Linked DNA regions of Homo sapiens: region 1 is linked to region 2. The links come from fine-mapping of genetic effects on gene expression. A gene starts in region 2. The other region holds a variant in brackets. All regions are shown on one strand. Distances are between the middles of the regions. Region 1 overlaps LRRC4B (leucine rich repeat containing 4B). Region 2 holds the start of LRRC4B (leucine rich repeat containing 4B).

Region 1 (4,000 bases), 26 kb after region 2:
AGACAGGGTCTCACTATGTTTCCCAGGCTGGTCTTGAACTCCTGGACCCAAGCAATTCACCCACCTTGGCCTCCCAAAGTGCTGGGATTACAGGTATAAACCACCTAACCCAGCCATAAGTGTATTTTTAATTACTTATTACAGAATGAATATAAATTAATTGAGAAAAACTAGAAAATATACCTAAGTAAAAACAGGAAGACAGAAGCCAACCATAATCCCACAGCCATGGGTAGCTCTCCTTCGCTTTGGTGTCTTTGCATTCGGACACCCTCCCCACCCATGCACAGTGTGTTGCACAATTGCTGCTGATTTGTAAATGGAGTTTTAGCTTTTTTATTTTTTTATTTTTATTTATATTTTTATTTATTTTTTTTTTTTGAGACGGAGTCTCGCTCTGTCGCCCAGGCTGGAGTGCAGTGGCGTGATCTCGGCTCACTGCAAGCTCCGCCTCCCGGGTTCACGCCATTCTCCTGCCTCAGCCTCCCAAGTAGCTGGGACTACAGGTGCCCGCCACCACACCCAGCTAATTTTTTTGTATTTTTAGTAGAGATGAGGTTTCACTGTGTTAGCCAGGATGGTCTTGATCTCCTGACTTCGTGATCTGCCCGCCTCGGCCTCCCAAAGTGCTGGGATTACAGGCATGAGCCACTGCGCCCGGCCTATTTTTTATTTTTTTTGAGATGGAGTTTTGCTTTTGTTGCCCAAGCTGGAGTGCAATGGTGCAATCTCAGCTCACTGCAACCTCTGCCTCCCGCGTTCAAGCAATTCTACCGCCTCAGCCTCCCAAGTAGCTGGGATTACAGGCGCACACCACCACGCCCAGCTAATTTTTTGTATTTTTAGTAGAAACGGGGTTTCACCATGTTGGGCAGGCTGGTCTCGAACTCCTGACCTCAGATGATCTGCCCGCCTTGGCCTCCCAAAGTTCTGGGATTACAGGCCCAAGCCACCACACCCAGCCAGCATCCTGTTATTTAACCAGGCCCTTCTTTTTCTTTTTTCTTTTCTTTCTTTTTTTTTTTTTTTTTTTTTGAGATGGAGGCTCACTCTGTCACCCAGGCTGGAGTGCAGTGGTACAGTCTTGGCTCACTGCAACCTCTGCCTCCTGGGTTCAGGAGATTCTCCTGCCTTAGCCTCCCGAGTAGCTGAGACTACAGGTGCCCACCACGACACTCAGCTAATTTTTGTACTTCCTAGTAGAGACGGGGTTTCACCATATTGACCCGGCTGGTCTCGAACTCCTGGCCTCAAGGGATCCGCCCACCTCGGCCTCCCAAAGTGCTGAGATTACAGGTGTGAGCCACCGCGCCCGGCCTCCTTATTTCCAATTTCTGAGTTGATATGAACAACACCGGGGGGACATCCGTTGGCTCATTCTTCCTAATGTTCTGGACTCTGCCCTTGGGATAAATTCCTAGAAGCGGAGTTTCTGGGTCTGAGGGATGATGAGAGAAGCACCGCCCTGTGAGTTCTATGTGGCTTCCTCATTTGAGTGTACTTCTCCCTTACACACAGAGACACACACACACACACACACACACACACACACCAGGGCCTGGCACTGGAGCATTGGTAGCGGCAGGCTGAATTCTGGGGATTCCAGAGCCTCCCGTGTGACCTGCCGCCTTGGTTGTCATCTGTCCCCCGCCGCGCTGCCACCTGCATGAAGGCAGGGACTTTGCAATGTTCCCTGCCGGATCCCCAGCACCTAGGGCCGAGCCTGGCACACAGGAGGTGCCCAGCAGTTGTTTGCCTCTGAATGGGAGGCCAGCTCCCGAACTCCTGCCCGGATCCTTGGCAGAGGCCTGCAGCCATCTGTCGGTGGGAGCCGACGCGAATCCCTGCGACGCCCTCCCGTGAGCTCTGGGGGGTGGCTCAGAGACTCCTGTTCTCGCCTGCCCCTGGCCTGGGTGCGGTGTGGGCAGCAAGAACCTCGCGGGGACTTTGGGGGACTCTAAGTCCACGGGGTGACGGTGCTGGCCTCTCTCTGGGAAGCTAGAACGTTGCCATTCATCTTTGGTGAGAGAGTTAAAATGTTCTTCTGCCACATGACAGAGACAGTAGGTGGTCCCCATAGTAAGACAGAGGATGTGTTTTTTAAAATATCATGGCCAGGCGCGGTGGCTATGCCTGTAATCCCAGTACTTTGGAAGGCTGAGGCAGGCAGATCACCTGAGGTTAGGAGTTCGAGACCAGCCTGGCCAACATGGTGAAACCCCATCTCTACTAAAAATACCAAAATTAGCCAGGCATAGTGGCGTATGCCTGTAGTCCCAGCTACTTGGGAGGCTGAGGAAGGAGAATAGCTTGAACCCAGGAGGTGGAGTCTGCAGTGAGCTGAGATCACACCA[A/C]TGCACTCCCGCCTGAGTGACAGAGCGAGACTCCGTCTCAAAAAAAAAAAAAAAAAAAAAAAAATCAGCAATTCTCTGAGGCCCTGCCCCGGCCCCACCACTGTTTTTTGAGATTGGTGGGGCCTGCAAGCCTGGAGCCTCAGGAAATGCCTTTTAAGGCAGAGGCCAGGAGACTGCCTCCCCGCAGCTCACATGCCCTGGCCCCCTGGGAGAAGACCGGGTGCAGATCTTCGCCTCCATCTCCTCGGGACCTGGGGGGAAGGTGCACCACCTCGGCTGGGCCCAGCCTGTCCACTCCTCGCTCCTCAGTCAGGTACCTGGTCCTCACCGGACTGGCTCCTTCCTCCTTCCCTCCCTTTTATCCTCATATCCCCGCCTTACCCTCTCCCCACAGAAAGTCCTCCTAATGTGTTTACTGTGGATTTTTTGCTTGTGTGTGTTCTTGCAAAATGGGTATTGTTGCTTTGCGTACACGTATTCTTAATTTATGCAGATGAAGCTGCGTTAAGATCGCTGTCTTTGTCTCACTGTGTTCGCTCGGCCTGTGTTTCTGAGAGTGGTTCATATTGCTGTGTGTGTCCACTCTGCTGCTGTTGCTGCTACAGAATTGATGGGCACCCACCCCCGTCCATCTGCCAAGTCCCCCACTGCTTCCTGATGAGACTGGACGTCCCGGAGGCTTCTAGCTGCCCCACCGCAAATCCTCCCTCAGGACCCCTCTGGGAGCTGCATGATCATTTCTGTGGAATATATACCCAGAGGGAATTGCCGGGCCGTAGGATATTCATGTACTTAATTTAACAAAGTACCACTGAATCCACCCAAGGCTTTTAGCGGGCGGCTCTGGGTCCCTCCTGGGGCCGGCTATGAGGTTGTATGGCAAGCAAGTGTGGTTCCAGCTTAAGGAACAAACCAATCCATCCTAAGGAAATTATTAGAGGGGCTTCAAAGAGTTGTGTTTAAGGATGGCCCGACTACCAACGTTTAGAAGTAGCCTCAACTCCTGCTGACAAGGGACTGGTTACATCAGCGGTCCCCAACCCTTTTGGCACCAGGGACTGGTTTCATGGAAGATAATTTTTCCATGGACTGGGGTGTCGAGGAGATGGTTTTGGCATTACATTTATGGTGCATTGCTTTTTCTTTTTCTTTTTTTTTTTTTTTTGAGATAGAGTCTTGCTTCACTCTGTCACCAGGCTGGAGTGCAGTGGTGCAATCTTGGCTCACTGCAACCTCCGCCTCCCAGGTTCAAGCGATTCTCCTGCCTCAGCCTCCCGAGTAGCTGGGATTACAGGCACACCCCACTGTGAGCGGCTAATTTTTCTTTTCTTTTCTTTTCTTTTTTTTTTTGAGACAGAGCCTCTCATTTTCGCCCAGGCTGGAGTGCAGTAGCGCCATCTCGGCTCACTGCAAGCTCCGCCTCCCGGGTTCACGCCATTCTCCTGCTTCAGCCTCCCGAGTAGCTGGGACTACAGGCACCCACCAGCACGCCCGGCTACTTTTTTTGTATTTTTAGTAGAGATAGGGTTTCACCATGTTAGCCAGGATGGTCTCGATCTCCTGACCTCATGATCCGCCTGCTTTGGCCTCCCAAAGTGCTGGGATTACAGGCGTGAGCCACCACGCCCGGCCGGTGCACTTTATTT
Region 2 (4,504 bases):
CTCACACTGCTCTTGGAAATAGGACCTTGAGGGGTCAGTTCCACGGGGACAGGGGCTGTCTCCTTACTGTTCTCCGGCCGGGCTCTCAAAGCCCTGAACAGTGCCCGGTGCTGAAGACCCTTGATGAGCTCTGGAGGTTGACGGCAAATCATTTCTCCTTCAGTAAAACAGGGGCAGTCATACCCTCCAGGCAGGGCTGAGACTTAGGCTGCATGGACCAAGAGGGTTCGCTGGTTGTTCAAATATTGGAATACTTCCCTGCTTCTCTAACGGCCCCACCTGACACGGCTTGGCCTCTCACCTGAGACCCTCTTGGTTTGTTTTTTGAGACTGAGTTTCGCTCTGTCACCCAGGCTGGAGTGCAATAACGTGATCTCGGCTCACTGCAACCTCTGGAGGCCTCCCGAGTTCAAGTGATTCTCGTGCCTCAGCCTCCCGAGTAGCTGGGATTACAGGCGCGCACCACCATGCCTGGCTAATTTTTGTATTTTTAGTAGAGATGGGGTTTCACCATGTTGGCCAGGCTGGTCTCGAACTCCCGACCTCAAGTGATCCTCCCGCCTCGGCCTCACAAAGTGCTGGGATTACAGGTGCGAGCCACCATGCCCGGCCGAGACCCTCTTGTAATGAAAGGGTTAACTCAGGGCTCATCAGGGGCCTGCTCTCACCTGTGCCCACCAGGTACCACCATCCCTAGGAGTTGGTACCGCATGGTTGCAGGATTGATGCCACGCTTGTGAGGTGCTGGGCACAGCATCTGGCCTGTGGGAGACCAGGAGGAACCGCGGGCTGCCACCATGTGATTCTGTTTTGCTGGTATCACCATCGGTCCTGGCCTACTCTGTGCTGGACCCTGGTGCACACACACATTCACTGGTCCAGTCTCACGAACTAGACTTGAGCGGCGCCAGGGGCGGGTGAAACCCGAAGCACCACAGCCACCTGCCACTCCCTGGCCCTCGCCCAGCCCCTTCTCAGTTTCCCCTCTCGGCAGCTCTCAGGGCTCAGCACCCACCAGCGCCCACCCAAAACCGCCTCTTCCGAACCCATCTGTGACCTGGCTTCTCTCGGGAACCCTGGCTCATTATAGATGTGTCTGGCCCACTTTCCTTCCAGCTTCCAACCCTGACTCTCCCCAGGCTCTGCCTGCAGGGGTACAGCCACACTTTCCCTCCCTGGGGCTCTCCGAGGAGAAGGGGAAGAGGGAGAGTCTGTCCCGGGTCCCCTGGCACTGAAAGAAGGAACCTTCATCTTTCTTCTCTCTCTCCTGAGTCCTCAGTTATTAGTCAGCGTTTTGGGGGATAACAAGGCAGGGGTGAAACTTCTGTGCTAATTTTAACATCTGGAAGGATCTTCAGTGTCCTGGACAGGGGCCACCCCTCCTTCTGGGTTTCTCCGCCCCTGATTCCCGATGTCCCCCTTCCTTGGGGCCCAAGCTTTTGGGGTAGTGGACCGGGGAGGTAGAGGGGAGGGTCACGGTGACCTCCCAGAGGCCTCTGCATCTGCCCTCCCCCTCCCTGCACCCAAGATGCAGCTCAGCTTCACAGCTCTAAATGCGTCCCCAGCACCCGCTGCCAACACCTGGGGGAGGTGAGAGGAGAGTGAGTAGGGAGGCTGCAGGCTGTGCCCTCTGCCCCTCCCAGGTGCCTCCACCTGCCAAGTCTGGACCAGGGACGAAAGCTAGGAACTGACCCATTCTCCATCTCCCTCAGGGTACCCCCAGCCCAAGACTGCATTCAAACCCCATCCTGGCTCCTCCAAGAGCTCAGTGGTCTCTTCTGGAAAATGGGTTTGAAGGTTCTTCTCTTCATGAGGTGGAGGGGCGGACGAAGCGGGCATACAGCGGAGTTCAAGAAAGGCCCTCTGTCCCCTCCCCCACTCTGTCTACTCCCCGGGCTCTTGCCACCCAGTCTTGGGCCCTCAAAGCTCCAGCTCCCCAGCTTCTCTCCTCTCCCCCGAGATCTTTCTCCTCCCCCCTCCCCCCGACGGGTCCTTCCCTCCCTCTTCCATCCTCTCATCTCTGTCCCACTTAGATCCTCCTGCCTCTTCCGGGTCCTGCCAGCTTCCCCTGCTCTTCCTGACAACGCACACCGCACCCCCCATTCTTCTCCCCACAGCCCCCGCCGCCCTCCAGGCCCCTCTGTCCCCTGCAGCCCTCAAAGTTAGGCCTTCCCTACCTCCTCTTTCCCCTCACTTCCCTGCCCCTGGGCCTCTCCTGCCCATCTCTCTACCCATCTCCCCCTCCACTCCTCCTCTCCCTCCTTTCCTCTTCCTCTACCCACTCCCCCTGCCCCCCGCCCTCCCCTCCCCTTCATCCAGGACCTTATTGCAGGAGTTACCCCCTCCTCTCCCCTCCCCTCCCACACCCTCTCCCCTTTCCCTCCTCTCTCCCCTGCTCCTCCCCTTTTTCTCCCCCTCTTCTTTCTTCCACCCCCTTCCCACTTCCTTCCTTCTTTCCTCCCCTTCCCTCTTCTTTCCTCCCCCCCTTCCCCTTCCCTCCCGTCTCCCTCTCCTTTCTTCCCTCCCTCTCCCATCCTCTCCGGTTCTTCCCCCCTCTTTCCTTCCTCCCTCTCCACGCTGCCCTCCCTCCCCTCCCTCTCTCCCCCCTTCCTCTCCTCCCGGGCCTCCCTCCCTGCTCCCTCCCTCCGCCCGCCCGCTCCCACCATCATCAGTATTCCGCTCCCGTCTCCGCCGCTCTCGGCTGCTCTCGGTCGCTGCCGCACCGTCCGAGGCGGGGGCCGGGGCCGGGGCCGGGGCCTGGGGGGGGGTGGGGTGGGGGGAGAGCGGCGCCGGCGGGCCCGAGGAGGGAGGAAGGAAGGAAGGAAGGCTGGAAGGAAGGAAGCCAGGAAAGAAAGAAGGAAAGAAAGGAAGGCAAGAAGGAAGGCGGGCGGCGGGCGAGGGCGCGGGGCCGGACGGCAGGCGGGCGCGAGGCGAGGAGGCAGAGCGGCCCCCCCAGCCCCACCGCCGCCGCTGCGGAAGCCCCCTCCCCACCCAGGAGCCGGGGAGGGGGGAGAGCGCGAGAGGCTCCAGGCCCGGCCGCAGCCCCGCCCCCCGCGCCTCCCCGCAGCGGGCCTTGCACCCCAAATTCCTGAGCCTCATTGGGGGGGTCCTCCCCCCACGGGCCGGGCATGCTGCCCCCCGGAAGGAACCCCTCTCCTCGCTGTGAGTAGCCGCCAAGGGGCACGGGTCGGGGGCGGGGGCCGGAGGCGGAACCGCGGGGGGTGGGTGGGGGGCATTCGCTAATTGGGGGACAGTGGTCTTAGGCCTCCTCCGGGATGGGGGGGGATGGCAGAGGACAGGGGGCGGGGCCTAATGGGAGGCAGAAGCCGGTGGGGGAGGCGACTGGGTGGGGGTTCTCCGGGCAGGGCGAGTTCTGTGCTGTGGGGGGGGTGGTTGTCGCCGCTGCCTGGGGACAGGTTGTGGGGGGTGCGTCCGGCGGTCGCTGCGTATCCAGCTGTGGGGCTGAGGAAGTAGGCTTAGGGTGGGGGGCTCTCCGGGCGTAGGTCCGGGCCCCCCTTTCTGGGGCGGGAGTCCAGGTTCTTCCTCTCCCCATGGCCCCTCCCACCCTCCACACCGCTGCTGCTTGGGGTGGGGGGGGCACGCCAGTGATGGGGAGGGGGGAGAGGCGGGCACGGGGTTTCCTTGGTGACCGCGCCTGGCAAGAGCGGTTGCCGTGGCAACCGGGGAGAACCGGGGAGTTTGGGAAGTGAAAATGGGAAAGACGGAGGGGGTGATTGGGGAGTGAGACAACCCCCTCCCCAGTCTTCAGCCCTTCTCCCTCTGGGGTCACCCCGCCTCTCCTGGTGGGCGGCTCGGACCCCTGCCCCTCCGTCTCTCCAAGACCCCCGTTCCCTGACCCCACTAGGCTTTGGGGCCTTCTATCCTTGGGCACGTGTCTCTCCAGGACCACTGCCTCTCCCACCTCCCTCCGCCCTCCCCTCCTGGAAACCTCTCCTCCTGGAGACCCCCGCCCCCCATTTGCTGCCTCCTCCCCAGGCTTCCGACCCTCACACCTGCTCTTCTAGGACCTTCTAAGACACGGCATCTGCTCCTCAGCCTTCTCTAACCCCCATCTCTGACAATCCCCCAGATATCCCTCTCCAGACCTTCTGTCCAGGAGACCCTCACTTCAGCCGCCCTCTCCTCTAGCTCCCTCCTCCCACTCCCTCCCCGCCCCTCTTTGGGCCTTGCACCCCAGCCTCTCCCCTTTCTCCCCAACACCCCCAGTCGCCTTCTCCTTAGCCCATCACTCTCTGAAACATCCTTCTATGACCTTTCATCACCCAGAGACCCCCTCCATCGTTGTCTCCTCACCCCATAGTACTCCCCAGTCTCAGACCCCCCCAATCCTAGCTCTCTCCTTTTGGGAGCCTCTCCTTCCAACTCACCATCAATCCCGGGCTCTCAGGGTTCCCCCCATCTCTATGCCCCTGCCTCCCTGGGGTCCTGTCCTGCCAGGGGCCCAGCCAGTCTCTCTCCAGGACTCGAGTCTCCAGAGCCCAGG

What was found. PIP is the estimated chance that this variant, and not a neighbour inherited with it, causes the effect. A credible set is the group of variants that fine-mapping cannot tell apart.
Region 1: its variant is the best candidate, but not a certain one, in a credible set for the expression of LRRC4B in subcutaneous fat (GTEx, PIP 0.53).

Annotation. Positions count from the first base shown.
Region 1 is chr19:50,540,888-50,544,887 of GRCh38, reverse strand. All of the region lies in intron 2 of LRRC4B (leucine rich repeat containing 4B), which reads left to right. Among named protein-coding and RNA genes, the nearest start is that of LRRC4B, 26 kb to the left of the region's middle. The variant A/C (reference allele first, on the strand shown) is at 2,355.
Region 2 is chr19:50,566,602-50,571,105 of GRCh38, reverse strand. LRRC4B (leucine rich repeat containing 4B) reads left to right here and starts at 2,671. Exons shown (of 3, transcript NM_001080457.2): 1 at 2,671-3,162.